Linked DNA regions of Homo sapiens. The protein of the gene in region 2 interacts with the protein of the main gene of each other region in a biochemical or structural test. Each region holds a gene or a part of one and is shown on either strand. Other genes may lie near its edges. The genes, in order: RALA, RALBP1, DLG4 and SYNJ2BP.

Evidence for each region.
Region 1: the proteins of RALBP1 (region 2) and RALA form a complex in vitro, tested with the Homo sapiens proteins (3 studies listed by BioGRID).
Region 3: the proteins of RALBP1 (region 2) and DLG4 interact in a biophysical measurement, tested with the Homo sapiens proteins (2 studies listed by IntAct, with this or other methods).
Region 4: the proteins of RALBP1 (region 2) and SYNJ2BP form a complex in vitro, tested with the Homo sapiens proteins (2 studies listed by BioGRID and IntAct, with this or other methods).

What each region holds. Positions count from the first base shown.
Region 1 is NC_000007.14:39,626,358-39,633,909, reverse strand, and holds part of RALA (ras-related protein Ral-A precursor), read right to left. Parts: intron 2,015-7,552; exon of another isoform or gene 1-2,014. UniProt on the Homo sapiens protein: Multifunctional GTPase involved in a variety of cellular processes including gene expression, cell migration, cell proliferation, oncogenic transformation and membrane trafficking.
Region 2 is NC_000018.10:9,470,172-9,478,617, forward strand, and holds the start of RALBP1 (ralA-binding protein 1), read left to right. Parts: upstream 1-5,341; 5' UTR 5,342-5,520; intron 5,521-5,523; exon of another isoform or gene 5,524-6,115; intron 6,116-8,093; exon of another isoform or gene 8,094-8,351; intron 8,352-8,446. UniProt on the Homo sapiens protein: Multifunctional protein that functions as a downstream effector of RALA and RALB. As a GTPase-activating protein/GAP can inactivate CDC42 and RAC1 by stimulating their GTPase activity.
Region 3 is NC_000017.11:7,193,628-7,201,179, forward strand, and holds part of DLG4 (disks large homolog 4), read right to left. Parts: intron 3,426-7,552; coding exon 3,130-3,425; intron 2,949-3,129; coding exon 2,846-2,948; intron 2,708-2,845; coding exon 2,593-2,707; intron 869-2,592; coding exon 692-868; intron 374-691; coding exon 337-373; intron 245-336; coding exon 217-244; intron 88-216; coding exon 40-87; intron 1-39. UniProt on the Homo sapiens protein: Postsynaptic scaffolding protein that plays a critical role in synaptogenesis and synaptic plasticity by providing a platform for the postsynaptic clustering of crucial synaptic proteins.
Region 4 is NC_000014.9:70,406,539-70,414,090, forward strand, and holds part of SYNJ2BP (synaptojanin-2-binding protein), read right to left. Parts: intron 1-7,552. UniProt on the Homo sapiens protein: Regulates endocytosis of activin type 2 receptor kinases through the Ral/RALBP1-dependent pathway and may be involved in suppression of activin-induced signal transduction.

The DNA.
Region 1 (7,552 bases), on a different chromosome or scaffold from region 2:
TAAAAACACTCTCCAGAACTTGGGAGACCAAGCACTGGTGTGCAATGACCATCACTGCCATGTGGATGGAACATGTGCAGGATGCTGGGCCAACACCTGATTTCACACCAACAAATCATTCCTGCCAGATGAGTGGATTCGCATAAATAAAACCTGGAGAAAGAACTGCCTCAAAGCCAGATGTCCCAGGCCTTACACACTTGTCAAGAACCACCCACAGATATGTACTCTAGGATTACCCCCCAGTGGATAAACTCATCTAATTACAAACCTGCTGATAGGGTGTGGCTGTGTCCCCACCAAAATCTCATCTTGAATTATAATCGCCATAACCCCACTTGTTGAGGGAGGGACTAGGTGGGAGGTGACTGGATCATGGAAGCAGTTTCCTCCATGCTGTTCTCGTGACAGTGAGTTCTCACGAGATCTGATGGTTTTATAAGGCAGTTTTTCCTGCTCTTGCATGCACATGCTCGCTCCTGCTCACTCTCATGAATTCTCATTCTCTCTCTCCCCTTCTCTCTCTTTTCTGCTGACATGTAAGACACGTCTGCTTCATCTTCTGCCATGATTTTAAGTTTCCTGAGGCCTCCCCAGCCATGTGGAACTGTGAGTTAATTAAACCTCTTTTCTTTATAAATTACCCATTCTCGGGTATGTCTTTATAGCAGTGCGAGAACAGACTAACATTTACCTTGCTATATGATCTAGAAATCCAAGAAGTCAAGGCAGCAACATATCAATACAAAACAAGCCTTGCTCATCTGCAAAGCACACACACCACTTAAGACTGTGAAGCCTAGAAGGGAATCCCTAGATTTTCATAGACCTATGACAGCTTTAGCCTAGAAGGGAAAAGGAGGTCACCCTGTGGCATCTATAACTAGCTGGGTAAAAAACAAAATGAAATCCAGAAAACTGTGTAGAGAAGCAAGAAAACTCAGGGCTGCTTGTATAAACTGAGAAACCATGGAGCAGTTACCATGCTAAACACCGTATTTTCCTACCATGCACTAGGAAAGTTGACCTTTCCTGCTTCTTACCACATCCATCTCCTTAAGTATCTTTTGTTAAAATTTAATTTTTTAAAAATTGAGATGGGGTCTCACTCTGTCACCCAGCCTGGAGTGCAGTGGCATGATCTCAGCTCATTGAAGCCTCCCCTCCTGGGCTCAAGTGATCCTCCCACCTCAGCTCCCTAGTAGCTGGGACCACAAGCACATGCCACCATACTTAGCTAATTTTTGTACTTTTTGTAGAGACAGGGTTTCACCATCTTACTCGACCTGGTCTCAAACTCATGAGCTCAAGCTACCTGCTAGCCTCAGCCTCCCAAAGTACTGGGATTACAGGCCTTAGCCACCACGCCCAGCCAATCTCCATAAGCATCTCTTAAAGACACAGCGAAGGACTGTGTGCAACCCTTGTAAGGTATATACATAGCCAAACTATTATCTACATTGAAATGTACACATTTGTATATCCATGGTGAAGATAATACAATGAAGCAATCAGTACCTCTATTAAAGACATTGTTACACTGCTATTTAATCTTGTTCTGGAGATATTAGTCAGTGCAATTAGATAAATAGTTAAAGGCATAAACACTGGAAAAGAAGGAAAAAAAACTATTTACAGATGACACAATAGTATATCTGGAAAGTCTGAGAGAAGCAATGATGGAAGTAATTGATATGATTTGGATGTGTGTCTCTTCCAAGTTTCATGTTGAAATGTAATTCCCAAGGTTGGAGGCGGGCCTAGTCGGGGGATGTTTCCGTCATAGGGCAGATTCCTCACGAATGGCTTGGTGCTGTCCTCACAGTAATGAGCAAGTTCTTACTCTATTAGTTCACATGAGAGCTGGTTGTTTAAAAGAGCCCAGAACCTCCTCCTCTCTCTCACTCTTCTTTTGCCATGTGTCACACCTGCTCACCCTTCGCCTTCTTCCATGAGTAAAAACTTCCTGAGGCCTCAACTCGCCAAGCAGATGTTGGTGTCATGCCAGTACAGCCTGCAGAACCGTAAGCCAAACAAATCTCTTTCCTTTATGAATTACCCAGTCACAGGTATACTTTCATAGCAATGCAAAAGAGGCTAACATAGTCAACTTAGTAACAATTTGGCAAGGTGGCAGGAAAATATGCAGAAATCAACAATATTCGTATAAATGGACAATAACCAGTTAAAATACATAAATGATAAGAAAACTATAATAGCAACAAAAAAGATAAAATAGCTTAGGAATAAGCAAGAAATGTTGAAAACTTGTATGAAGAAAACTATAAACCATTCCTCAAAGACACAAAAGTAGAATGCAAAAAATAAAAAGACATTGTTTGTTTTAGGTTAAGATGTCTCAATACCATCAAGATGTCAATTCTCTAGCAGGGCATGGTGGCACACACCTGTACTATCATCTACTTGGGTGGCTGAGGCAGGAGGATCACTTGAGCCCAGGAGTTCAAGGCTGCAGTGAGCTATGATGGCACCACTGCACTCCAGCCTGGGCAACAGAGGGAGACCCTTTCTCCAAAAAAAAGATGTCAGTTCTTCATAAGTTAGTATAAGTTCAATGTGATCCCAATAAAAACAGCAATGAGGCCGGGCACCATGGCTCACGCCTGTAATCCCAGTGCTTTGGAAGGCCGAGGCAGGTGGATCACTTGAGGCCAGGAGTTTGAGACCAGCCTGGCCAATATGGCGAAACCCTGTCTCTACTAAAAATAAAAAAATAAGCTGGGCATGGTGGCACACGCCTGTGGTTCCAGCTACATGGGAGGCTGAGGCAGGAGAATCGCTTGAACCTGGGAGGCAGAGGGTACAGTGAGCTGAGATCGCACCACTGCACTCCAGCCTGGGTGACACAGTGAAACTCTGTCTCAAAAAAAAAAAAAACAAAAACAAAAAACCAGCAATGAATTGTTTCATAGACTTAGACAAATTGATGCTAAAATTCATACAAGAAGGCAAGAAAAACAATGAAGAGGAAGCGCTATAATGGGTGACTAGCCCTACCAAACATTAAAACATACTACAAAGCCTCTATGATTAAAATGATGTGGTACTGGTGCATGAATGGTGAGATAATCCAATAGAAAAAAAATATACCCAACTGCATATAGAAGGAACAAGAATTTTTTTTTCTTTTTTAAATAAATGTCATTGGGGCAACTGGATAGCCACTTGGAAAAGGATAAAATTAGATGCATTCCTTATATCATACATAGAAATAAACTCTGAATGGAACTAAATGTGAGAAATGAAACTATATGAGTACCAGAAGAAAGCATGTGTGAATTTCTCTATAACCTGAAGGTAAGAAGTTTCCTGAATATGACTAAAACTTCAGATGCAGTAAATTTAAAATTTATATATTTGACTATATAAAAACAATCTTTTGCATGGCAAAAAATCACCACAAGCAATGCCAAAAGACGACTAGCAAAAATATCTGCAACATATGTCAAAATTAAACGGTTAATATTCTTAAATAGAGAGAACTTTTCAAAGCTGAGAGGAAAAAAGACTGAAAGTCGTATAGAAAATGGGCAAATTGGTCGGGCACGATAGCTCATGCCTGTAATTCCAGCACTGTGGGAAGCTGAAGTGGGCAGACTGCTTGAGCCCAGGAGTTTAAGACCAGTCTGGGCAACATGTTAAAACCCCATCTTGACAAAAAAAAAAAAAAAAAAAAAATTAGCAAGGCATGGTGGCATGCACCTATAATTCCAGCTACTCAGGAGGCTGAGGTGGGAAGATCACTTGAGTCTTGGAGGCTGAGGCTGCAGTGAGCTGTGATCGCACCATTGCACCGCTGCACTCCAGCCTGGAGGGTCCAGCAAGACTCTGTCTCAAAAAAAAGAAAAAAAGTAAAAGAAAGCTCGGCATGGTGGCTCACGCCTGTAATCCTAGCACTTGGGGAGGCTGAGGTGGACGGATCACGAGGTCAGGAGTTTGAGACCAGCCTGACCAACATGGTGAAACCCCATCTCTACTAAAAATACAAAATTAGGGTCAGGCACGGTGGCTCATGCCTGTAATCCCAACACTTTTGGAGGCCGAGGCAGGTGGATCACGAGGTCAGGAGATCGAGACCATCCTGGCTAACACGGTGAAACCCCATCTCTACTAAAAGTACAAAAAATTAGCCAGGCGTGGTGGCACGCGCCTGTAGTCCCAGCTACTCGGGAGGCTGAGGCAGGAAAATCGCTTGAACCTAGGAGGCAGAGGTTGCAGTGAGCTGAGATGGCGCCACTGTACTCCAGCCTGGCAGAGTGAGACCCCATCTCAAAATAAATAAATAAATACATACACACATACAAAAACGTGCTAGGCGTGGTGGCGTGCACCTGTAATCCCAGCTACTCAGGAGGCTGAGGCAGGAGAATCGCTTGAACCTGGGAGGCAGAGGTTGCAGTGAGCAGAGATCGTGCCACTGCACTCCAGCCTGGGCGACAGAGCGAAACTCCATCTCAAAAAGGAAAAAGAAAAGAAAAGAAAGTGAGCAAATAATATGAACAATAAAAATAAATATTAAAATGACCCTTAAACATATGAAAACATGTTCAATTCACTTGTAATAGAAGTACAAATGGAAAATACACTGAGATACAATTTCTTACCTATTAGATCAGCACAAATTCAAAAGCTGACAAAACACTGCTGGTGAGGCTGTGAGGAAATAAGCACTCTACTCTCATACACTGCTGGTAGGAATGCAAAATAGTATAACCCCACAGGATGAGGAGTTTGACAGTACCTAACAACTCTACATATGCATTTATCCTGAAGATGTATCTCTCCAACAATACAAAGATACATGTACACAAAGTTTTTCACTGTAACATCATTTGTAATTGCAAAATATTAGATATTACTTAAATGTTCAAACAGGACATTAGTCGAGAAAACTATGGTACATACACGATAGCAGTTAAGAATGAAAGTTACTGATTTTAGTTTATGTATTTTATCTTTTCACACAGCTACTGACTTGTTAGGAGATACATACTTATTAAGTTGTTCAGACCTAATTACTTAATAAATTAAACTGGCCAGGCATGGTTGCTGACGCCTGTAATCCCAGCACTTTGGGAGGCTGAGGCACATGGCTCACGAGGTCAGGAGTTCGAGACCAGCCTGGCCAGCATGGTGAAACCCCGTCTCTACTAAAAATACAAAAAATTAGCCAGGCATGGTGCCGCGTGCCTGTAATCCCAGCTACTCGGGAGGCTGAGGCAGGAGAATTGCTTGAACCTGGGAGGTGGAGGCGGCAGTGAGCCGAAATCGCGCCACTGCACTCCAGCACGGGTGAAAGAGCGAGACTCCGTCTCAAAAAACAAAAAACAAAAAAATTAAACTGTTAGGTGTTTCTTTTGACCTAGGGATGCTGTGAAAAAAATTACTGCGATAATAAGGGTGCCATGAATTGAGAAAGTTTGGGCACTTGACTGATAAAGGCCTACGAAGAAGGCCTTTAAGAGAGAGAAAGAATGTGTGTGTGTGTGTGTGTGTGTGTGTGTGTGTGTGTAGTTATGAGGTTACTGTGGACTGCTGTCAACAAAATTTACAATAGGCTAATGAAAGTACTCTCTCCAGTGTAGTTAAGAGCTGTAACAGATATTATGACAGCACATAAGAGAAGCAATCAGCCCAGTCTTAAAGGTTTTTTGTTTTTTGTTTTTTGAGGGATGGGATCCAGAGAGAGAACCTAATTGTAATTTTTTGGAGAATTATAACCTAAACTGAGTTCTGAAGGACCAGTAGGAGTATACTAGATTAGGGGAAGGAAGAGAGGCTAGAATTCCAGGAAGAGGAAATGGAGGACTGAGTAAACAAACACTAGCATTCCAGAAGCTGGGTATTGGTAGAACAAAAGATCATCCAAGAAGAGAGATAAGGCTAAAGGGTTAGGTAAGAAAAAAAATGAAAAATATGAAAGATAAAGGGGAAAAAAGAGAGTTAGGTAAGGAGCACATCTTGAAGGTTTTGTATATGAGATTAAGGATAAATGGAGTTTGAATTTTATTAATGGGCAAAAAAGAGCCACAAGAGGATTTTAAGCAGAGAAATATCACCATTGTTCTAAGCAAGAATGGGAAAAGTATCAGATGGGTTCCAACCATAGGCTAGAAGGCTGCTGTAGTAATCCAGAATATCTAGACAGGGCAGCTGAACTCAGTGTTTGGTCACGCAGTGTGGCAACCTCCACTTTTAATGGAGTACTATGTTAGCTTCTCAACTACATAAGAAAACAGATCCTGTGGCTTAGATGACCATAATCATAACTTTTGGAAACTGGGGGATCTTTGCCCACCTTCCCAATAAATCTGGGAGTATACGCCATTTTATAATCTAACTATGTCTTATTGTCCAAAATAACATTACCAAACCCTGACATTTAGTTTCAAAAGTAAATTCAGCAATAAAATTGGATCCCAGACTTTAAGGAGACTATGTATGTCAGTGTTACATCTATTGCATCTAATATAGGACCCTAGCTGTGAAGGCCTTTAAGAATAGTATAATTTTATGGAAGCATGCCTTTTTTGGCTTGTAAAGACTACCCTCTTGACTTTCAGAAACTAAGTCATCACCTTCACGTATAATTAAATCAAAGATGCAAATTCTCACCTAAAATTTACTCATACATATTTTAGAAACCCATAGAACTTTAATTTCTTTTTTTCTATACGGCAACCCAAATCCTTATGAATGCGATAAGGTAATAAGAAAGATGTCTTAAAGAAAAAACAGAATAACTGTTACTTATGGGGGCCAGACAATCAGCTGTTTTTTACTTAAGGGTACATCTTTTAAAAAAAAAAAAGAGAGAGAGAGAGAGATGGACACATTCTTCAAATTAAGCCTATTTAAAAGTGCATTTTAAAAAGTGCACAGGCTTAGGAGGGAAGAGAATTCTACCAGCACTGAATAGCAGCTAAACCCTTACAAGACTTCTGCCACTTTTAAGCCTCCATCTTAAACCCAGAGAAAATGATTAATGGTCTCAAACGGTTAAAAACAGACCAAGCACATCTCTGCTTCTTTTACCATTCTTTCTACTGTCCCCCATAGCTTCTCCCCCATTTCCATTAGTGAAAGAACGAACTAAAAAAAATGTGATTTCAAGGAAAGGTCACTACAAATAGATTTATGGTATTCCTCTCAAATAGGGACGATTCTGTTACTTTAAAAAGCACTAATCAAACACCAGAATTGAGTCCAAATACTTTACCGGGACACCCACGGGAAAAATGCCCAACCATTTTTCCATCATGGCACACATGGACGGTGATAACACTGTATTTGTAGGCACGCTGAAGATAAAAGAGAAGAATGGCTGCTGCTTGAGGCCACCTGGCCAGGACTGCTGGCAACCCCAGGCCACACTTGATGTCCAAGAGAGAGGAATCAGTATCTTCACCTTCCTGAAGCTCCAGTTCCAGCTCAGTCAGAACTGCCTTTTCCACAGCCATTTAGGATTAACTGCAATAATACTCAGTGCTCTCAGCAATTGTTACTTTCAAATCTAGGCTCTACTAAACAC
Region 2 (8,446 bases):
CTTTCTCTTATTATTATTTTAACTGTCAACCTGAGCTTTATTAGGTAAATACTGTTGATTTTGGTTCATGATTCTCTATTATGTAATAATTTGTTTCATTCTCCGGTAAAATGATGTTTTTTTTTTTTTGAGGTGGAGTTTTGCTCTTTTTGCCCATGCTGGAGTGCAATGGCGCGATCTCAGCTCACCGCAACCTCCACCTCCTGGGTTCAAGCAATTCTCCTGCCTCAGCCTCCTGAGTAGCTGGAATACAGGCATGTGCCACCATGCCCGGCTAATTTTGTATTTTTTAGAGAATACAAATACAGAGACGGGGTTAGAGACGGGGTTTCTCCATGTTGATCAGGCTGGTCTTGAACTCCTGACCCCAGGTGATCTGTCTGCCTTGGCCTCCCAAAGTGCTGGGATTACAAGCGTGAGCCGCCCATGCCCGGTTGATGTTTGATATTTAATAAAAATTATAACAGCTGATATTTACCTATGATCTCTAATATAAAAAGTGCTACCATGCTCTTTCTCTCATTAATACCATTTTTTTTCCTAGTTTAACCCAGTTTATTTCATATGGTCTTAAATCTTAAAACTATTTCTTCTGTATAGATAAGTAATTCAAATCATTGGCTTATTTCCCTACCAATATGTTCAAACTTTATCTGTCAAATTCATTGAATGGTAGTTCCTGAACATCATATAGCAAGACAAAACAAACAAAAAAACCTAAAACACTAAAAAAAAAAAAAACCCCAACCCTTCCAATATTTAATTTAATAAAATTAGTGCTTTTCTGCAGTATGATTTTTGTCTCAATAATCCAAATTCAGGTTTCATTAGTTTTAGCAAATGAAGTAAAATAAAATGTTATGCTAAAAAATATACATACACACCCCAAAGGCTGAGAGATATACCAAGCTATTATTAATGGTTATCTATATGCAGGTAAAATTTTAAGATTTTTGTTTGCATGTTTTCTTTATGTAGGTATTCTTTTTTAATAATTTTTATTTTATTTCAATAGTTTTGGGGGTACAGGTGGTTTTTAGTTACACGGGTAAGTTCTCTAGTGGTAATTTCTGACATTTTCGTGCACCTGTATCCTGAGCAGTGTACACTGTACCCAATACGTAGTCTTTTATCCCTCACCCTCCTCCTATCCTTTTTCCCTGCCCCGCCCCAAGTCCCCAAAGTCCACTATATCATTCTTATGCCTTTGCATTCTCATAGCTTAGCTCCCAAGTATAAGTGAGAACACACGGTATTTGGTTTTCCATTCCTGAGTTGCTTCATTTAGAATAATGGCCTCCAGCTTCACCCAAGTTGCTGCAAAAGACTATTTCATTCCTTTTTATGGCTGTGTAGTATTTCATGGTATATATATATATATATTATATATATTATAATAATATATGATATATCATATATATTATATATATTATATAAGATATTATATATATATCACATTTTCTTTACCCACTCATTGGTTGATGGACACCCAGGTTGGTTCTATATCTTTTGAATTGCAAATTGTGCTGCTATAAACATGTGTGTGCATATGTTTTTCATATAATGACTTCTTTTCCTTTGCATAGATACCCAATAGTGGGATTGCTGGATCAAATGGTAGTTCTACTTTTAGTTGTTTAAGGAAACTCCATACTGTTTTCCATAGTGGTTGTACTAGTTTACATTCCCTGTTTTTTCTTTTTCTATTTAAAGCTACAGTCTATGTCCTTGAGTCTGGCTTATTGCTAAAAATATCCTCTTTTTTATGGATGTGTCATTATAGCTCTTCTTTTACTTCATTTTTCTGTTTTTTGAATACGATAATTTCTCTATCTTCAAGTACACCTTTTTTGCCATCTCAAATCTTTCACTGAGATTATGTAATACAATTTATATTTCTCTTCTATATTTTTCAACTCTAGAAATTTCATTTTTATAGAATCATTTCCCTATTGATATCCTTTATATGTTAAAGAATTATCATTATATTTTCCTTTAATTCTTTGAAAAATGTTTACTTTTTAAAACATAATTATAAGACCTACTTTCAAGAGTTTGCTTCTGAATCCAGTATTTGAGCCCAATGGGTCTGTTTCTATTGGTTGCTATTTTCTTCCTCAGAGTGGGTGACACTTTACTGTTTCTTTGCATAAACCATGATTGTTGGTTGAAAAGCAGATATTTCATATATTGCAGCAATTCTAGATGTTTTATTTTTCTTAGTTTTGTTGTTGTTGTTGTTGTTGTTTTATCTTCCTGGATTTACACAGATTTAAAATCTGTCTCTATATGGCCTGTGGCTGCTGGTATCTTTGCTCTGTTTTTCAATTCACATTTTTATATTTACCCTGACTTTCTGGGCTTTGTCCCTGTGTTTGCATAGCTGTGGCTAGTCAATGATTTGGCAGTGGTTGCACTCAAACACCTTGATTTGGGAGTCTTCTTCCCTCTGCTAATGGATCTGTGTGTGGATTAAGGAATACATTCACAGTTGCCACCAGTTCTCAAGTCTCCCTTGGATTTACTTAACAGGTCTCTTGGGTCAACCCCAGGCAGATGCATAGTTTCCCAATCAGTCAGAGATGTGTGGAGATGTAATTAACAAATAGAGTATTTCTGTGGGGAAGTAGACTCTATAAAAAAGGATGATATTTCTAGAGTTGAAAAGTACAGGCTGGAGTGAGGTGGTGTGACCATAACTCTTCAATGACTCTTATTTCTAAAATCTCCCTGTTATATTTTTGACTGGCTTGCCATTTGCCCCACCTGGGACTGTAACCTCAGGTAAGCACAGCTGTGGGTTTGCCCTGTTCATTTCCATATGAGTTTGTCACTTTTAGTTGGCAAAGCCTTGGGTTTTTGACCACCCGCCCCAAATTGAGTCCATCCCTTTGGCAGCAAAGCTGCTAGTTTTCTTGGCTATTCCTACCCACACTGGCAAAACTGCAGTTCTGGTGCAACAGGGTGGGAGAGAAGCAGCCTCAGGCCAGAAGGCCACAGACATCTACTGTCCCTGCTAGCTGTTTCTGAAGAATAGATGTTTCTCAAATTGTTTTCTGTATTTGTTTGATTTCCAGTGCTCTGAAATGGTTGTTTTTGCCAATTTATCCAATTTTATACTGGTTTTGTGTGCAGAGAATTGCTGACTATGCCACACAGACATAGCTAAAAGTCCCTTCCACAGTTTTTTACGTAGGAACCTGTATTAGTTAGGACCTTTCAGAGTCATGTAAAAGAAATTCAACTGAATTAGTTAGGACTTTTAGAATTTTAATATGAACTGGCTTAAACAGTACAGGAAATTTGTGGTTCACAATTCTGGATAGTCTGTAAGATGGCCTTGCTCACAATCCCGAATAGTCTATAGGATAGTCCATAGAATCAAACAGGTGAGGTTTGATACTGCAGCTCAAATCATGCCACCAAACACAAGGTTCTTCTCCATCTTTCCCGCATTCATTTGACAGTACTGACTTCAACCCCAGGCTCTACTTGTTGCTGTCCCTCTAAACTCCCATCCCTCTAGGGTTTCCCCTTATAGGAGGAAAACGGTTGCCACATTTCCAGGCATCATATACTTACACCATGCTAGAGGAGCAAGGAAGCTACAGTTTACTGGAAGCCTCAGCCCCAGTCTTTGTGGGTTCATTGTTTCTGACTGGGCTTGTGACCATCTCTGCTGCTAGAGGGAATGGTTATGTTGCCTGGCTTAAATGGAAGGAATAAATGCTCAAGTGGCAGCCAACAAATACATTCAATATCCACACATATTGGCTCCAAATAATAAATCAATGAATGAGTGGGCTCACCCACTTAGGCTCACATGCTCACAGCACTTAAAGAGCTCCACAAACCATGCCCTCCAAATGAAACCACGGTCTACATTCTGCCAGCTCTTTCTCCCTTTCCATTTCTCCTTTCTTCTCTTTCACACCCTCACCTTTGGCTAGGCCACTCGATGTTGCAAGAAACACGTCCATCAGCAATTGCCTCAGTAGAAAACTCCCTCTGCTCCCCTCCTGCATCCACATAGCAGCTTCAGGCAAGGCCTCCATAAGGCCCAGCGTGGATCAGTGCCTGCCCCTTGGCCGAATCAGTGCTGTCACAGGCAGAGAATTGTCACTGCCATGCTCACCTGCCCAACCCAGTGGTCAGAGAAGACTGTTCTACTGCGAGAGGAGCCATGAGAAGGCTTTTCCGAAAGTCAAAGACCAATGGCTACCTCAGACCATCCCGTATCCACTCGTGGGAGGCCCCTGAATGAATCTAAGGCCCCAGGGGTTGAACTTTACTGAGTAGGGAGCGCAGAGTACTAGGGACAAATTTACCGCCCGCTTTGAGGAAAGCTGATGTGGGAGCAGAGAGCAAGATGGATAGCAGCGGCCAATCTAAACGGGCAACGAAGTGCCACAGAGTGCTGCACGTAGGAATGCGAGTGACAGGTAGGGTCGTCTATTCCAAGTCCCTCCTCTCCCCTAATAAACTGCCACATTTCAGAAAACACGAAGACTGCTGAAGCCGTTTCCAGCCTTCGCTACGCATTAGCAGAGCAACTCAACAAGCCTGGGTGAAAGGCTTCTCGAAGAAATTCAGTTATCTCTACTGCCAGCCAAACACGGACTGGGCAGCTTTCCTCGGGGGCTGCTCGGTAACTGCTGAGCCGGGGGCGCGCTGAAGCCCTGCAGAAGCCCACACCCGCTTCAGGAATTCCGTGGATGTTCCCGACAGAGGTTTATTCCCGCCTATCCCTACAGGCCCACGGCGCTCTTTCCTCCAATCCCACACCCAGTCGAAGGCGGGGCAGCCGCCCCACCCAGCGGCCAGCCGGGCGGCCCCCAGTCTGGTTTAACTGGTTGGAACGACTAAAGCACGCTGGCGCAAGGAAAGCTCTCAACTTCGGGAGCTGAGGCGCAGGCTGGCCAGAGCGTGGAGAGGAAAGCCCTTTCCATCCTCAAGGCCGTTGCAGGAGATGCCCGCGAGCCACCTTCGCCAGCACCACACCGGGGTAAGCCGTCCGTCCCCGAAACCCGCAAGGCCACCGACTGCGCAGGCGCCTGCAGAGCACTGGCCCTCGGCGCGTTCTCTCGCGCTCTTCTTCAGTCTCCTCAGCGAGCCTGGGGACGAAGGGGGCGCGGTGCCTCCTGGGTGTTGTAGTTTGCTTCCTTGGCGAGAGGCCTTCGGGCTGGCTGGACGCCGGGGCCTTGGGAACTACGCCTCCCAGCGCGCCCCGCGCGAGAGCCCAGGTCGCCTGCCCTTGACGGCTTCAGCCGTCTGAGCGGAGAGGAGGATCCGGGAAGCCGGCTGCGGCGGGAGGAGGGAATGCGCGTGCGCGCTGGACCGCCTCGTCCCGTTCCGTCCCAATCATTGTAAACAGGCAGAGGCTGGGCGGGGTGGGAATGGGGCGCCCGAGGCCGGCCTGGGGCGCAGCGCAGGAGGCGGCTCCGGTGGCTGCGGCGGCAGCGTGAGCGCGAGGAGGCGGAGGCTGCGGCGGGGCGGACGGTCGCGCGGCGGCAGGCACAGGTCAGTCGCAGGGAGCGGTCGCGTGCTAGGGTCGCGGCGATACCCCTGGAGTGCCCGAGGAACCCTCTCCCGCGCCGGCCTCGCGCCCGCGTCTGTCAGGCAGCGTGTGGGGCTCGGTGCTCGCAGCGCTCGGGTTTGAAGTTGGGGGTGGGGGGCGTGGCTGCCCCTGGCGTGGGTTCCTCCCCGGAAAGCTTCGCCCCAGTTTTCGCCCCCCTTGGCCGTGCGTCCCTCCCACTGGCCGACGGGCCTCCCTTCGTGGCGTCCTCGTTTGTGGTGCTCTCGGGGGCCGGGGGTGGAGAGTTAGGAGTCCCCAGGCCTCGGGGAAGCTCTTGGGGGGCGCCTGGACAGAGGCTAGGGGACCCAGCCCTCACGGTTGGTGGATCGTGCCCGGCATAGTGGCCAGGCTCCAGGGCTTACCCAGGGGACCAGGACAGGCTCCTGGTGTCGCCCACCGCTGGCACTGAGCAGTGGGCGCCTTTGGGTGCTGCGATCCTTCCTTCAGGTTTCAGTGGGAATGGACAGACAGATCTGAAGTTGAAAATTCTTTTCACAACTCATGTTCAACTATGTGTGTTGTCAGAATGCTCTTAATGAGGTCAGTGTTCTCCCTCTTTTTTTTAAAACTGATCGTTGTGAGAGTGAAACAGGTTTTACAGAATATTTAACACCTCCGTCTTCCCTGAAGTAATTCTGCTGTTTCAAGTTTTGGGATTCAGTATTACAAAGCCTTCCTCTTGAGCAAGGCCTAGTACAATTCTTCAAGGTCCCTAGCATGTTAATTCGAGGTGTTTTGAACGTGCATATACAGGAAGTGCAGCCGTTTGGCCGTTGAGTTAGTGCTCCATCCAGCCTTGTTAGAAAAGCTTTCGCTGAATTTTTAATTTAGTGGAGTGGTCATGTTCTAATGCTGCAGTACTTTGGGGAGTATTCCATTATACTTGGCAGTTATTAACGAAATACTGAACTTGTGATAAGGTTTTGTTTTGGTGCTCAGCATTTCTAAATGAATAAGTGGGACTGTGAATAAGAAAGATCACCTCACTTTCTGTTTTTAGAGTTATTGTGGTCATTTGATAACTCCTTTCTGTCTTTGTGAAAATAATTACTGTAAGCTGGAGTGGCGGTAGTAGGGGTAGGAAGGAGGTCAGTAGAGTGGTTTCCACCTCTCATTCAAAGTATCTGGTAGATCCAAGTGGGGTAGGTTAGTTAACAGTAGCTTTTTTTTTTTTTTTTTAGTTTTTTATTTTTTGAGACAGAGTTTCGCTCTTGTTGCCCAGGTTGGAGTGCAATGGCATGATCTCAGCTCACCACAGCCTCTGCCTCCTGGGTTCAAACGATTCTGCTGCCTCAGCCTCCTGAGGGGATTACAGGCATGCGCCATCACGCCCGGCTAATTTTATATTTTTAGTAGAGACATTTTCTCCATGTTGGTCAGGCTGGTCTTGAACTCCCGACCTCAGGTGATCTGCCCGCCTAGGCCTCCCAAAGCGCTGGGATTACAGGCGTGTGCCACCGCGCCCTGCCAACAGTAGTAGCTTTTGAGAAGTGACTCTTTAAACAAGGTATCTCGAAACAATGTAATACAACTTAGTTTGCTTTCTCTTCAGGATATTGTTTCTAATTATGGATCTTATCCAGACTATTTCTCCCCTAATTTAGAATAGGAAAGTGGTATCAGAAAGTGCATAATAACTTTAATTTGTACAGTTATATTTGCATAGTTGTTTGCTTGGCAAGAAGAGATCGGGCCCAGCATGTAACCCAAAAGAATATTGTTTCTGTTTTGAAAGATCCCTGATAGAAACTTATGTTAGTTTGTATAAGAGGGTACAAGGAAAAATGCAGATTATTTAGAATACAGGAATTACTATGTAGAAAGTACTGTGACCAGGTGAAGAGGACTTAAAGATACAGAAGGCAGTGTTCCTGCCTTCAGGGTAGTTGAACCTTATCTCTTACTTTAACTGTCAACAAGTACAAGATTGTTTTGATTGAAGAACATATGCGGGTACAGTGGATGTACAAAGGAGATAGTGGTCAGTTTCTTAAAGTGAAGAAAAGAGCTGAAGAAGAGGGAAACTGTAAGGAAAAACTATGTAGAAGGTGATGAAAATCAGGAGTGTACAGGCATAGAAAGAATGGGCATTTAGGTAGAAGGAGCAGTGTGAGAAAAAGCATGGGAGTCTAAAATTAGAGAGTAGCATCTGCAAAAATAGCAAGTATAATACAGGGTGGTGGCAAGACCTGAAACTGGGGAGATAGGCAGAGACCAAATTATGGATCTTGCAGACCATCAGAATAATTACAATTTTATTTTATAAGCAAATAGGAGTCATTGAGAGGACAAAGAAGAGACCTAAGCCAGCTCAGCCCATTTTTAACCCTCTGCTATAGGTCAGGCACTGTATTAGGTACTGTATATTTTATGTCCTTAAGCTTAAAGAAGGCTTAGTCATGACTAATGCAGAAATTGGGGGGCTAGGGCAGGGATGGGGAAGGAACTTTTAGAGGGAAAGGTGGGCAGAAACGTAGGTGAGAAAGAACATGGAACACTTTTTTTTTTCCCAATACAGACACCATCACTCAGTTTTATTGGTTTTGTCTTATTAGCCTCTGAAGTAGGCAATTATTGGTGTGAACATACATTTTGAAAAACATCTGGAGTCAAGAGTGCACGAGTGTCAACTCAGTGCAAGTACTGTTGGTAAGCATTATGTCCCGAGGATGAAATCGGAGGACCAACAGGCCCAGGAGGCTTCACAGCGAACACCACATGCCTCGCGCCCAAAAGGACAGCAGACCGCGCTTCAGAACGGAACCGCCTTCTCCATGTAAACTTTTGACGTAAACTGTGTGCTTCAGGGTGGCCTCTTCTTCTCCGAGATCCTCTCCTGCGTCCCGAGTTTGGGAATGGCCCGGCCGTGCT
Region 3 (7,552 bases), on a different chromosome or scaffold from region 2:
GCAGCAAGTGCTGGGGCCAAGGCAGGGGCCAGGGCTCACCTTCCATCTGCGTCACTGTCTCGTAGCTCAGAACCGAGTCTTCTCGACCTGGTGGGAGGTGGGGCATCTGCAAGGGGCTCTGAAACAGGGGACCTGGAGCCCTGTCTCCCCCTTGAGGATATCAAAAGCAACTCAGTGCTCCTCTCACCCACATCTTCCCGAACTAACCCTACCTACCCTGCGATCCAGAGCTGGAGCCCCAGTCCTAAGAAGAAAAAGCAGGCCACGGGGTTAGTTATGAGCTCAGCTCCATGAGCCCTCACACTTCCACCCAGGCTCACACCCTCCTCCACCTACCTTGGCCTTTAACCTTGACCACTCTCGTCGCTCAACCCTGTGGGATACATGGAGGGATACGCGGGTAGGGGAATGCCTACCCCCTGCCACCCCCATGCTCTGAGCCAGCTGACAACCCCTTCTCCATACTCTGGGCCAGCTGACACCCCTTCTCCTGCAGCCCTGGACACTGTGCTCCTCAATAAGGAGTTGTCCTTCCCAAAGGCTCATGGGAGCCACGGACCCCAGGAGGGCCCAACAGACAAACCCCTAGGAGTTCAGAGGGCAAACCCATCCCCTGTTGGCTGCCCACCCCGGGGGACCTTGGGAACTTCAGTGCCTGTGGCAGGAAGGCTACAGAGCCCAGGAGCCTCACCGCCGTTTGCTGGGGATGAACCCAATGTCGTCGGTCTCACTGTCAGAGTGGACCCGCCGTGCCTGCCACCACTCCTCATCACTAGCATCGATGACATGCAGCACATCCCCAAAGCGGAAGCTCAGGGCCTGGCTCAGGAAGCCGCAGTCCTTGGTCTTGTCGTAATCAAACAGGGCCCTGGAGGGCAAGTGGCTATCGGTCAGAGCCCAGCTGAGGACTCCAGGAAGGATGCCCCAGTCACCCAAAGACCCGGCCCAGAGGTCTGCAGATGGCACTCCCATGGGAGCTATGGATGCCGAGGAACCCAAAACTGTGTGGGGACCAAACGCTGACTATAACTCATAACAACTATTAGCCATCACTCAGTCCACACTGAGCACAGTTTCCAGAGGCAGGGCTTGAACTTGACCCTCTCAAGAAAGCAGTTTGGGCCAGGCGTGGTGGCTCCCACCTGGAATCCCAGCTGACTTTGGGAGGCCAAGGCGGGCGGATCACAAGGTCAGGAGATTGAGACCATGGTGAAACCCCGTCTCTACTAAAAATACAAAATATTAGCCGGGCACGGTGGCGGGTGCCTGTATTCCCAGCTTCTCGGGAGGCTGAGGCAGGAAAATGGCATGAACCCAGGAGGCGGAGCTTGCAGTGAGCAGAGATCACGCCACTGCACTCCAGCCTGGGCAACGGAGCGAGACACCGTCTCAAAAAAAAAAAAAAAGAAAAAGAAAAAGAAAAACAGAAAGCAGTGTGCAGTACACACGCACATCATAAAGTCACAGGGGTAACCCTGAATCTGCCCAAATTCATAAGAAAAAGAAAATGTCCCGTGTTTCCAAATAATGGTTACCCTTACCAGTATCAAATTTCTATCAGTAAGTCACAACCCCTGGGGTCAGAACCAGGGAAGTAATGAAGACACAGAAGAAAGCAATGGGCCTGGAGAGGAGGGAGGAGACCCCGGGCCCCCTGGAAGTGTGACAACCAGATGACATTCCGCCTGGGAGCCACTACACAACCTCTGTGGTCACTGGGAGTCAGAACAACCTTGGGGACCAACCGGACCCGAGCAGGGAGGAAGGGCAGAGCAAGGGCTCAGGTGGGAGCCAGTGTCTGGGTGGCTGGTGATGCCATCCAACAAGAGGGAAACTGCTGGCACAGCAAGATGGAACCCAGGCCCACAGCAGGATGATGAGCTCAGCGTGGGACATGTTGAGTGTGGGACGCCTGTGGGACATCCCAGTGGAGATGGCCAGAAAGCCAATGGCCAGAAGTGCAGGTCTTGACCTCTGGAAATAGGTCAGCCAGGGCCAGCACCTCCGAGAGACATCTGCAGAGCGCAGCGGCAGACGAGGCCATGCAAGCCACAGGGCCAGACAGGGACAGAAGTGGAGGGGTGACCCCCGGGGGCGGGAGAGAGGTGTGTTTTGGCAGAAACCTAAGCCACAAAAAGAGTCAATGGAGACGAGCCCTAAGAGGGGAGCAAAATGCCGCTGGAGAGACGGGGGCAGGCACCACAGAGCTGCGGCCCACGTCTCCGGGACTGCCCACAGGGACGTGAAGGCTGGGGCAACACTCCAAATACCCTAGAGGACCCTGCTTCACCAAGCATTAACCTTCGAGACGCCAAATTGTGGGGTGGCCTGGGAGTCCCGGGGAAGTGCTGGGATGACCAGGGGCTAGAAGGCAATTGGGATACTTGGGGCAGAGGCTATTTTCCCATCGACAGGGAGTATTTCAAATGTTAACCTGTGCAGCCAAGCCCATGAACCCTGGCTGCGCCTCAGGCCTGGGGTGGGGAGCTAGAGCAGGCAGGGTGGAGAAGAGGAGCGGCTGAGGCCCGGGCCAGGCACAGAGTGCCCAGGAACGCAGAGGGGCTGAGGAGTCCAGCCCGGGAAGCCTCTGACCTGATGTAGAAACCCCTTTTGGGGTTGCTCCGCAGGGACGCAGTCCCTGAGCCCAGGCTGCTGTTCATGAGCTGTTCCCGAAGGTCGTGGATCTTGGCCTCGAATCGGCTGTACTCTGAGGAAGGACAGGGAGGTTTCTGAGCTCTGTCCCCATCCTACTGTCACCCCTGTCCTCCCCTACTGAAGCCATCAGCTGAGGAAGAGTTCTAAGGGCCATTTCAGCTCACAAGACAAGGAACTTCCGGCCTGGTACCTTCTGGTTTATACTGAGCGATGATCGTGACCGTCTGACCCGCATTCTTCAGGGCAATGGCAGCCTGCTCATGGCTGGCATTTCGGAGGTCCACACCGTTGACCTAGAGAGAGGACGACAGGCTGTGTCACCAGAGACAGGAGGCAGCACTTCTGGGTCCAGGTGGAGCAGGGAGTGGTCCCGCAAGAGGACTCGGCTGCAGCCCATCCAGGCCCCTCCCCAAGAGCTCTGCGCTCTGCCCTGTGGGGAGGGGGTGGTGCAGGTAGGGGCAGGCCTTCCCTCACCGACAGGATCTGGTCCCCCTTCCGCAGCTCCCCACTGAGGTCTGCAGGGCCCCCGGCCAGGATAAAGGAGATGAAGATGCCTTCACCGTCCTCGCCACCCACGATGTTGAAGCCCAGGCCCGTGGAGCCCCGGTGGATCACAATTCGCCTCGGTTCTCGGGGAATGTCTTCCTCCCCGAGCAGGTCCTTGGCCACTGGAGAGTAGCGCCGAGGGGAAGTGGGGGTCATGGCTGTGGGGTAGTCGGTGCCCAGGTAGCTGCTGTGACTGATCTCATTGTCCAGGTGCTGGGAATAAGCTGAGGAAGACAGGGCAGAGATGAAAGTGCCTGGAGGGAAACAGCACCCGCCACCCAACCTTCTCCCCAGGGTGCCAGAAGAGCCAAAGTTAGGTGGAAGGGAAGATATTCTGCCAGAGATGCCAGGGTGGGGTGGTAAGGGGATATCAGATCACAGTGACATCAGGGGTCAGGAATTTATAGGTGACATCAGAGGCTGGTTGTCCTAGGGGATAAAGGATTTGAACGTTATATGTCCTCAGTATGCCAGGGATGGGGAAGTCAAAGGGAGCATTAATATTACGCTTTGGGGGTTTTCTCTGGGTTCCTGTGTCACTCGAATCTCTTAATCCATAAAATTCTTCTCCCTCTTTTTTCCCCCCACCTCTCTGCCATCCATTCGTTGAAAAAACTAGGTCATTTGTCTAAAAGAATTTCCCACATTCTATGAGGGAAATTCTTTTGTTTTTTTGGGGTTTTTTTGAGAAGGAGTCTCAGGCTGGAGTGCAGTGCCGTGATCTTGGCTCACTGCAGCCTCTGCCTCCCAGGTTCAAGTGATTCTCATGCCTCAGCCTCCCAAGTAGCTGGGATTACAGGCGCGCGCCACCATGCCCAGCTAATTTTTGTATTTTTAGTAGAGACAGTGTTTCACCATGTTGTCCAGGCTGGTCTGGAACTTCTGAACTCAAATGATCCACCCGCTTATGCCTCCCAAAGTGCTGGGATTACAGGCATGAGCCACCTTGACCAGCCTATGAGGGAAATTCTAACAGGGAAATTACTGCTTACCCTCCTGTGGTTTGTTTAGCCTATGCCTCTGCCCCTGTATCTCCTGTAAACTGGCAGTTCATTCTGGAGGCTTGATCAGTTTCAAGTTCAATTCAGAGTTTTTTTTAGTAACTCCTGTATACTTCATAGGTAGCGCTACGTTCTTCCTACAGCATCACCACAGGATGCAATAATGCCTGGTTGTCTTTCTGTCAGGTAAGATTAATGGTAGGTTCAGGGTCATCAGCCCAGTCCATCCATTATCTAGCGCCCCATCAGCCTTTCAGGTAAGTTTTAGCCACACTGACAATCACCGCCTGGTTCTGATAAGTATCAAGGACTGCAAAATGGTGGTGATTGTCATTTACTAGTGGGAATTCTTCTGTAAAAAAGAAAAATCTCGACCAGGCACGATGGCTCATGCCTGTAATCCCAGCACTGTGGAGGCCAAGGCAGGCAGATCACTTGAGGTTAAGACTTTGAGACCAGCCTGGCTAACATGGTGAAATCCCGTCTCTACTAAAAATACAAAAATAGGCTGGGCGTGCTGGCTTACGTCTATAATCTCAGGTACTCGGGAGGCTGAGGCAGGAGAATTGCTTGAACCCAGGAGGCGGAGGTTGCAAGGAGCCAAGATTGTGCCACTGCACTCCAGCCTGGGTGACAGAGCGAGACTCCCTCTCAAAAAAAAAAAAAAAAAATTCCTCCAGCTTGGGTAACATGGTGAAACCCTATCTCTACAAAAGACAAAAGTTGAAAGTTAGCTGAGGCTGGGCGCAGTGGCTCACGCCTGTAATCCCAGCACTTTGGGAGGCCGAGGCAGGTGGATCACAAGGTCAGGAGTTCAAAACCAGCCTGGCCAAGATGGTGAAATCCCATCTGTACTAAAAGTACAAAAATTAGCTGGGCGCAGTGGCAGGGCCCTGTAATCCCAGCTACTCGGGAGGCTGAGGCAGGAGAATTGCTGGAACCCGGGCGGCAGAGGTTGCAGTGAGCCAAGATCGTGCCACTGCACTCCAGCCTGGGTGACAGAGTGAGACTCCATCTCAAAAAAAAAAAAAAAAAAGTTAGCTGAGCATGATGGCACTCGCCTGTAATCCCAGCTACTCGGGAGGCTGAGGTGGGAGGATCGCTTGAGCCCAGGAGGCGGAAGTTGCAGTGAGCCAAGATCACACCACTGCACTCCAGCCTGCTGGGTGACAAAGCAAGACCTGCCTCCAACAAAAAAAAAGCAAAAACAAAAACAAAAAAACAGCCCTATGTCAACCTGTTGGTTACTCTCTGAGGTAGCTGGTACATGAAAGGGAGGATAAATGCATGCCTCTCTCTGCATGCCTCTTTCCATTCATTCACCAATTTCAGAATGAATGAGATTGCCTAGCATCCTCCAATTTTTTTTTTAATTATTTATTTTTTTGGGATGGAGTTTCACTCTTGTCGCCCAGGCTGGTGTGCAGTGGTGCGATCTTGGCTCACTGCAACCTCTGCCTCCCAGGTTCAAGGGATTCTCCCACCTCAACCTCTCCAGCAGCTAGGATTACAGGCACCCACCACCACGCCTGGCTAATTTTTTGTATTTTTAGTAGAGACGGGGTTTCGCCATGTTGGGCGGGCTGGTCTCGAACTCCTGACCTCAGGTGATCCGCCTGCCTCAACCTCCCAAAGTGCTGAGATTACAGGCATGAGCCACCGCGCCCAGCCAAAATATTTTTAAGTATTATTATGATCTTAAAGATTTTAATATATTTAACGAGTTTTCACTGGACAGTAGAAGCACCTTCAGTTTGGATCCTGTGTCTTTGCTGAGACCCTATTAGTCCTGGATACCTTCCTTGCTCTCTAGTATGAAAGAAGTTAGAAGCTCATCTTACAGATTTATTGCCAAAGATTTTAAATTGGCTGGGCACGGTGGCTCAGGCCTGTAATCCCAGCACTTTGGGAGGCCGAGGTGGGGGGATCATGAGGTCAGGAGATCAAGACCATCCTGGCTATCACGGTGAAACCCCATCTCTACTAAAATATACAAAAAAATTAGCCAGGCGTGGTGGTGGGCACCTGTAGTCCCAGCTACTCGGGAGGCTGAGGCAGGAGAATGGCATGAACCCGGGAGGCGGAGCTTGCAGTGAGCCAAGATCGTGCCACTGCACTCCAGCCTGGGCGACAGAGCGAGACTCCGTCTCAAAAAAAAAAAAAAAAGAAAAGAAAAAAAAAGATTTTAAATTGACCCTTCTTCCAAGGAGCCCAGGTTCCTTTTGTTAGGTTATGGTATTTAGGAATAGTACCACATGATTTTAATATGGTTTTACAGTATTATTTCATATTTTGTAGGGGCTGCCACACCTCATTATTTGTTTCCAAAATGTCTTAGCTTTTCCACACAAATTTTTCCAGTCAAACTTTAGTGTCAACCTTCCAAGTTCCCAGTAGGGAAACAACATTAAAATTCTGATTAGGATTGAATGGAATGTAGATTAATTTGGAGCCGGTTGAGATCTTTAGCATATTAAGTTTTTCCATCCAGAGACACGGTGTGACTCCTCACCCCTTCCAGTCTTGTTTTATGTCTTTCAGTAAAGTTTTGTCATTTTCTTCATACAAATCTTACATTTCTTGTCAAGTTTCTATTTCTAATAATTTTATAGAAATTTTTTCTATGGCAAAAGGGGGCTTTTTATTCACTACATTTTCTTATTGCTGGGAAGTTACTAATTCCTGTTATTTATCTTACAAATAGCCACATTCCTTTTTTTTTTTGTCGTTTTTTGAGACAGAGTTTCACTCTTGTTGCCCAGGCTGGAGTGCAATGGCGCGATCTCAGCTCGCCGCAACCTCCGCCTCCCAGGTTCAAGCAATTCTCCTGCCTCAGCCTCCTGAGTAGCTGGGATTGCAGGCATGCACCACCATGCCCGGCTAATTTTGTATTTTTAGTAGAGATGGGGTTTCTCCATGTTGGTTAGGCTGGTCTCGAACTCCCAACCTCAGGTGACTCACCCATCTCGGCCTCCCAAAGTGCTGGGATTACAGGCATGAGCCACCGGCGCGCCCAGCCTGTTTTGGTTTTTTTTTTTTTTTTTTTTTGAGATGGAGTCTCGCTCTATCGCCCAGGCTGGAGTGCAGTGGTGAGATCTTGGCTCACTGCAAGCTCCGCCTCCCAGGGTCAAGGAATTCTCCTGTCTCAGCCTCAGGATTAGCTGGTATTACAGGCGCTCGCCACCACACCCAGCTAATTTTTTTTTGTATTTTTAGTAGAGACAGCGTTTCTCCATGTTGGCCAGGCTGTTCTCAAACTCCTGACCTCAGGTGATCCGCCCGCCTTGGCCTCCCAAAGTGTTGGGATTACAGGCATGAGCCACCTCGCCCAGCCAACAAATAGCCACATT
Region 4 (7,552 bases), on a different chromosome or scaffold from region 2:
ATGCAGCTGGAGGCTGCAAGATTCTGAACTTCCCCGAATTGCTCCAGGGGATAACATCGCGATTGTAAAACCTAAGATCAGTGCTTCTGATATTTTGCAGACCCTGCACTCAATGGATCAGGCAGCACCACTTAGATCTATAAACTAACTCATCTAGTCTTTGTAGTGCCCACCCAAGAAACAACACAGCACAAGAGGACAGCTTCAACTCCCCATGATTTCTTCTCTGACCTGACCAATCAGTGATCCCCACTTTCCAACCCCCCACCTGACAAATTATCCTTAAAAACCCTGATCCCTGAGTTTTCAGGGAGACTGATAATAAAACTCCAGTCTCCTGTACAGCTAGCGCTGTGTGAATGAAACTCTTTCTCTATTGCAATTCCCTTGCCTTGATAAATTGGCTCAGTCTAGGCAGCGAGCAAGAAGAACCCATTGGGTGATTACACCTGCACTTCATTGAATGTGAATCATGCCTCAAAAAAGTTGAGATGAACCTGGTGATTATGTACAAAAATGCAAGCATTTTAAACATTTATTAATGACTCCTACTTATTAGGTTGGTGCAAAAGTAATTGCAGTTTTTGCTATAAAAAATGGCAAAAACCGGCCAGGTGCGGTGGCTCACACCTGTACTCCTAGCACTTTGGGAGGCCGAGGCAGGTGGATCATGAAGTCAGAAGATCACAACCATCCTGACTAACATGGTGAAACCATGTCTCTACTAAAAATACAAAAAATTAGCCAGGCATAGTGGCAGGCGCCTGTAGTCCCAGCTACTTGGGAGGCTGAGGCAGGAGAATGGCGTGATCTCCTGGGAGGCGGAGCTTGCAGTGAGCCGAGATTGTGCCACTGCACTCCAGCCTGGGCAACAGAGCGAGACTCCGTCTCAAAAAAAAAAAAAAAAATGGCAAAAACCACAATTACTTCTGCACCAACTTAGTCAATAATAAAAGGCTAAAGTTTCTCAAAGCACCAATTTTGTGTTAATTAAGCAAAAAAAAAATTTGTTATAGTATCCTCCTTACAGTAGACTTTTTCTACTATTTCCTATGCAAATATGATAAAATGATTTTTAAATAAATTCTAAGTATATCCCCAAGATAAAATCAAAGTAAAAAAAAAAACATAGAAGATGAAGTTTAAACTCAAAATCACCATAATCTACCTTTCTAGCCATCTTTGGACATTCTCTACTTTGCATTATACAGTAAACAAAATTTAATATTTGCTATCGCTTTTCACCCTATCATCCCCGCCCACAGCTACTGCTTATCTCCGTGACTTTGGATGTCTTCTTCCCTTTGCCTGAAAACATGAAATTACTTGTTTAATTGTCTCATTACCCTATTGCAATATTCGTTCCTAGAAGACAATGTAATTAGCTTATATTCATTTTTGTACCTCCTGTGCCAATATAGTACCTAGTACATACACAAAGCCCAACTGGTGTCAATTGACTATTATTGGAATTGAAAATTACACCTAGGTCAGGAATTTCTAACATTTCCAGTTCTAGGGAAATCTCACAAGGTTAAAAATGTTTCTGGGAGCTTCTAACAGGTTTTTTTTTTTTTTGGAGGAGGGGGAAGGACTATTGCAGTAATAGGGTTTTTTTATAAACTAAGGCATAAAAGGAGGGAAAAAGAGAAACAGAAGCCCCATATCCCTGAAATTACTGACACAGCTTACCCTACCCTTCCTAGATGACTCAATTCTTGCCCCATAAAGTCTACTCCCCACATAGCAGTATCCTTAAAGCACTTCAATGAATTAAATGAGTTGTTTTGTGGTAAAGTGCTTAAGACAGTACAGAATCGTCACTACAAATTATTTATAAAACAAAAATCGGACAGGCGTGGTGGCTTATACCTGTAATCCCAACACTTTGGGAGGCCGAGATGGGTGGATCACCTGAGATCAGGAGTTAGAAACCAGCCTGGCCAACATGGTGAAACCCCATCTCTACTAAAAATACAGAAAAATTAGCCAGGTGTGGTAGCGGGCGCCTGTAATCCCAGCTACTTGGGAGGCTGAGGCGGGAGAATCGCTTGAACCCGGGAGGCAGAGGTTGCAGTGTGCTGAGACTGCGCCACTGCACTCCAGCCTGGGCAACAAGAACAAAACTCCGTCTCAAAAAAAAAAAAAATCATTGAATCCTCACAACTCTATAAGTAGATTCTAATAATACTCTCATATTATAGCTGAGGAAACTGGGGCAGATAGAAGTGAGGTGACTTGCACAAGGTCACACAGTGAGTGAGTGATAGAGTAAGGATTTGAACTCAAGCATTCTGGCACTTTTTCTTTTTTGAGACTGAGTCTCGCTGTATCGCCCAGGCTGGAATGCAGTGGTACGATCTCAGGTCACTGCAACCTTCACCTCCTAGGTTCAAGCAATTCTCCTGCCTCAGCCTCCCAAGTAGCTAGGACTACAACAACCTCGAACTCCTGGGCTCAAGCAATTCTTCCACTTCAGCCTCCCAAGTAGCTAGGACTACAAGCATGCACCACCAAACACAGCTAATGTTTTGTTTTGTTTTGCTTTGTTTTGTTGGCAGAGATGGGAGTCTTGCTATGTTGCCCAGGCTGGTCTTGAACTTCTGGCCTCAAGCAGTCCTCCTCCTTGATCTCCCAAAGTGCTCGGATTACAGGCAAGAGCCACAATGCCTGGCTTGAACTGCAAAATTCTTAAAAATGGGGATCATTTCTTATTCTTTATTCTAGTGTCCATGATTCCTAATCATAGTGTAGGCACATAATAAATGCTAAATAAATTTTAAAAAATAGTTTTACTTTACTTTTCAGTCTTCTGAAACCAGCAGTTCTGACCCTATCATCTAAGTATAGTTTGGCTATTTTTCCCTCAATAAATAATTGTGTACTTATCACATGTAATCATTGACCACTTTTCTGGCTAGTCACATGGCTTCGCAAAATGTTTCTGCAGTTGAACATCTATCAGCTTGCCTTTCTATTTCCCCAAAGTAATTCCTAGATATTTTACTGTACAGTTTTTCTTTAGTATTGTTTTGAAAAGATCTTAATACTGATCCTTGAAGCAATCTTTAGAGAACTGTTCCATTTACCTGACTCTCTCCAAGAGGTGTTCCATCTACTCCTTCTCCTTGTTTCTGATATCTTAGCCAGTTTCCTATCCATCATAATACAATGTGTCCATCCTCATTCTCTCTTTCTCAAATTGTATTTAGTGAAGAACCATGTTTACCACTTTTTGAAAGCTGAAACAGATCATGTTACTGCTTCTCTTTATTTAAAACATCCCATTATGGCAGGCACAGTGGCTCATGCCTGGAATCGCAGCACTGTGGGAGGCTGAGGTGGAGGATCACTTGAGCCCAGGAGTCCAAGGCATGACTGGGCAACATAGTGAGATCTCGTCTCTACAAATAATTAAAAAAAAAAAAAATTAGTCAAGTGTGGTGGTGCATGTCTGTAGTCCCAGCTACTCAGGAAGCTGAGGCAGGAGGACCACCTGAGCCCAAGAGGTCGAGGCTGCAGTGAACTGTCATAGTGCCACTGTACTCCAGACTGGGGGACAGAGCAAGACCCTGTCTCAAAAATAAATAAGTACATTGGGTGTGGTGGCTCACGCCTGTAATCCCAGCACTTTAGGAGGCCGAGGTGGGTGAATAACTTGAGCTCAGGAGTTGGAGACCAGCCTGGGCAACATGGTGAAACCCCGTCTCTATGAAAAATATGGCTAATAAAAACATTAATCAGGTGTGGTGACACACACCTGTAGTCCCAGCTACTTGAGGGGCTGAGACAAGAGGATCACTTGTACTCAGGAGGTCAAGGCTGCAGTGAGCCAAGATCGTGCCACTGCACTCCAGCCTCGGTGACAAAGTAAGACCCTATGTCATAAATAAATAAATATAAAAACATTCCATTATATTATTATGATATCTATCAGTTTGCTCAGTCATTTAATGAACACTTACTGACCACTGTGTGTCATGCACTAGACAAAGCATTAAAAAAACATTAAAGACACATGCATGCATGTGTTCACTGCAGCACTATCCATAACAGCAAAGAGATCGAATCAACCTAAATGCCCATCAATGGTAGACTGGACAAAGAAAATGTGGTGCATATACACCATGGAATACTTTGCAGCCATGAAAAAGAACAAGATCATGTCATTCGCAGGAACGTGGATGCAGCTGGAGGCCATTATCCTTAGCAAACTAACAAAGGAAGAGAAAACCAAATACCACATGTTCTCACTTATAAGTGGGAGCTAAATAATAACACATAGACACACAGAGGAGAACAGACACTGGGGCCTACTTAGGGTGGAGGTTGAGAGGAAAGAATCAGGAAAAATAACTAATGGGTACTAGGCTTAATACCTGGGTGACGAAAAAATCTGTAGAACAAACCCACATGACACTGTTTACCTATATAACAAACCTATACATGTACCCCTGAACCTAAAATAATAGTTAAATGAAAGAAAATAAGAAATAAAATATATGTTCTTTGACTCAGAAGAGCTCAAAGTGAAGTAGAAGGAGGAGACATAAGTGAGAAAGCATATAGAAAAAAAAAGTTATTTATAATGATTCAGGGCTTGGAATTTTAAGTCACACAGACCTGGATCGAAATCTTCACTTAAAGAGTTGTATAATGCAGAAGTCAAGGTTTCCTCATTTCTGAAATGGGGATAATAACCATTTCATCTCTTCCTTTTTACAAGGGGACAAGATACAGTGCTTAGCTTGGCAATACATGGGAATACATTACAGGCAATCTGTAAATGATGTATAATATAGACAATAAGAGAACATCTATCCTAGGTAAAGCCTGCTTCCTGGAGGAGCTAACTGTTGAACTGAGTCCTAATCAATGGCTAGGAAGTAGAAAGAATCCAGATAGAACTTTAGAGAAAGATTAAGTTTCCATACTAACACTAAAGACTCCATAATCTGATCTCCACCTACTCAGGTTACTACTCAGCTACCTCTTCTCTCTTGAATCTCCTAAAGGAAACTTTCCTTCTGTCCAGGCTGGTTTACTCACTAACCTCAGAATATGCTCTGCTTATTTTCTTCTCTCTATTATTGCTTAGGCCATACTCATCCCTGACTCTGGCCCTAGCCTAAAGCCTGTCCATTCCAGAAGACCCACAAGTTCCACGTTCTTTTAATTGACCATTTTAATGGTTCTCAGCAGTGTCTGCATTCTTGAACTTTCCCAACACAGGGTCAGATTACCATGCTCCTTTCCGCACTTCCTTTGCCCTCCCACTAACTACCTCCTCATCATTTTCCTTAACTATCTGCACCTTTGCAGTGAGATTTAATTTTTCATATGTGAACATCATATCTCTATTGGATTGTAAACTCCATGAAGGCGAGACTTTGTGTAAGCAAGAGAAAATAGGGCAAGGATATAGCATTTAGCCTCACATCTATTTGATATGTGAAGAAAGGAATAGATCAGAAAACTGCTAGCAACAGTTTCAGTTAGCATGAAACCCAAAGCCTATGACAGGTCTACAAGGCTTAAATGATAGAACTTAATGGGGCATCTTGATTTTAGGTACTCACCTTGATATGCCCTCAGCTCTATCAAGAGCAAGCAATAAAAACTTTCCACTGTAGGTTGTATTAGTCATTTAAGATGCCTCAAATGCTTCTGGGAATAAGGCATGATATAATAAAATAAAGGTCAGGGGAAAGGTTGGCAGTCAACTTCTTAAACATGGCTACTGCAGTGGAAAGTAGTATATGGTATAGCAGAATTAACACACCTGGGTTAAAAATCCTTTGAAATTTACTGGCATTAGAAACTGGGCAAGTCCTTAACCTCCCCAAGGCAATTTCCCAATCTAATAATGTGGATTAAATATTTATTACTCAGGGTTGCTGTGAAGATTAAATGAGTATGTATGTATGTATAGTATATATACAGTATATATATGTATGTATAGTATATATACAGTATATATACAGTATATATGTATGTATAGTATATATACAGTATATATATGTATGTATAGTATATATACAGTATATATATGTATGTATAGTATATATACAGTATATATATGTATATATAGTAACTAGCACACTACCGGAAAGACAATACCTCCTTTAGTATTCATTATTAAAACACTGCCATCAACCCATCATCTTTTCCAAGGCCTTTAAAGAAAGTAAGAAAATAAATATTCTCTTCCCTCTTTAAAGATGGCATATCAGGAGTAACTTGCTGAAACCCATTGAGGACTCGGACCTAAAAACAAGATTCCTAATCATAGTACTCAATGTACAGTAAGGTTGTCTTTATGGCCAATCTCTTACCTGTTGCAGTGCAAAAAAACATATTAAACAGTCTTGTCACACTTTTTAGAGTAACTGAGTTTTGAGACGCATTAAGAGACTTTCAATTTGATAAAGAAAAAGTGAGAGCCTTAGATACTATAATCAAGCTGGACTCCTGTAGAAAAAAACAAGATTCCACTAAAGATAAAAGGTAAACTGTTCAACCCTTGAAGACATTTGAGATTGTAGCCACTGCCTTTGTAATTCTTCAGCTCATACTATTAGTCTAAAATGGCAGGAAATAAAAACAAAACGAAGTTCCAAATGGTAGGAAACATAAAATAACATAAATAATCATAAAATGAGCCAAAGAATGAACTCTTAGAGATGGAAGAGACCTCTGAAGTCATCTAGCCCAAGTCCCTTCTTACAGTTGAGAAAGCAGACAACAGGAGAGATTCCATGCTATTAGGTTGGTGCAAAAGTAATTGCGGTTCTGCCATTGAAAGTAGTGGTACTTATGGCTGGGCGGGGTGGCTCACGCCTGTAATCCCAAAACTTTGGGAGGCCAAGGCAGGTGGATCACTTGAGGTCAGGAGTTTAAGACCAGCCTGGTCAACGTGGTGAAACCCTGTCTCTACTAAAAATACAAAAATTACCCGGGCATGGTGGCAAATGCCTGTAATCCCAGCTACACAGGAGGCTGAGGCAGGTGAATTGCTTGAACCTGGGAGGCAGAGGTTGCAGTGAGACAAGATCGTGCCACTGCACTCCACCCTGGTGACAGAGTGAGACGCGTCTCAAAAAAAAGAAGAACAAAAGAAAGTAATTGTACTTTTGCACCAACCTAATACATGTCAAGCTTCTTTTGCCTCTTCACTCTGTTGTCATAATTTCCCCAAGATTTCATTACTTCCCTTGCAGTAAGCAGATCAGTCAGGAACAGGTTCGACTGCCTTATAATATGGGCCCAAACACTGGAAATATCCACAATTCTTGTCCCTGACAGAACACAAAGGGGGAATGGTACACATGTTCTCGGATCTGATTAAACATCAGGTTCCTGAGTACACAGCTATACAAACACAAAGAGTGGGCAATGCTGCCTACAAAAGAAATGCATACTTAGAGGATTTTCATATTTCTTCCATAGATAGAAAGATCCTTATGGGACCATCAAAATTATGTGGAAGTTTCTAGTGGTGATTAGTTTCTAGTGGTATTTTGAGACAGTCTCCTCCCTATATATCTTCATG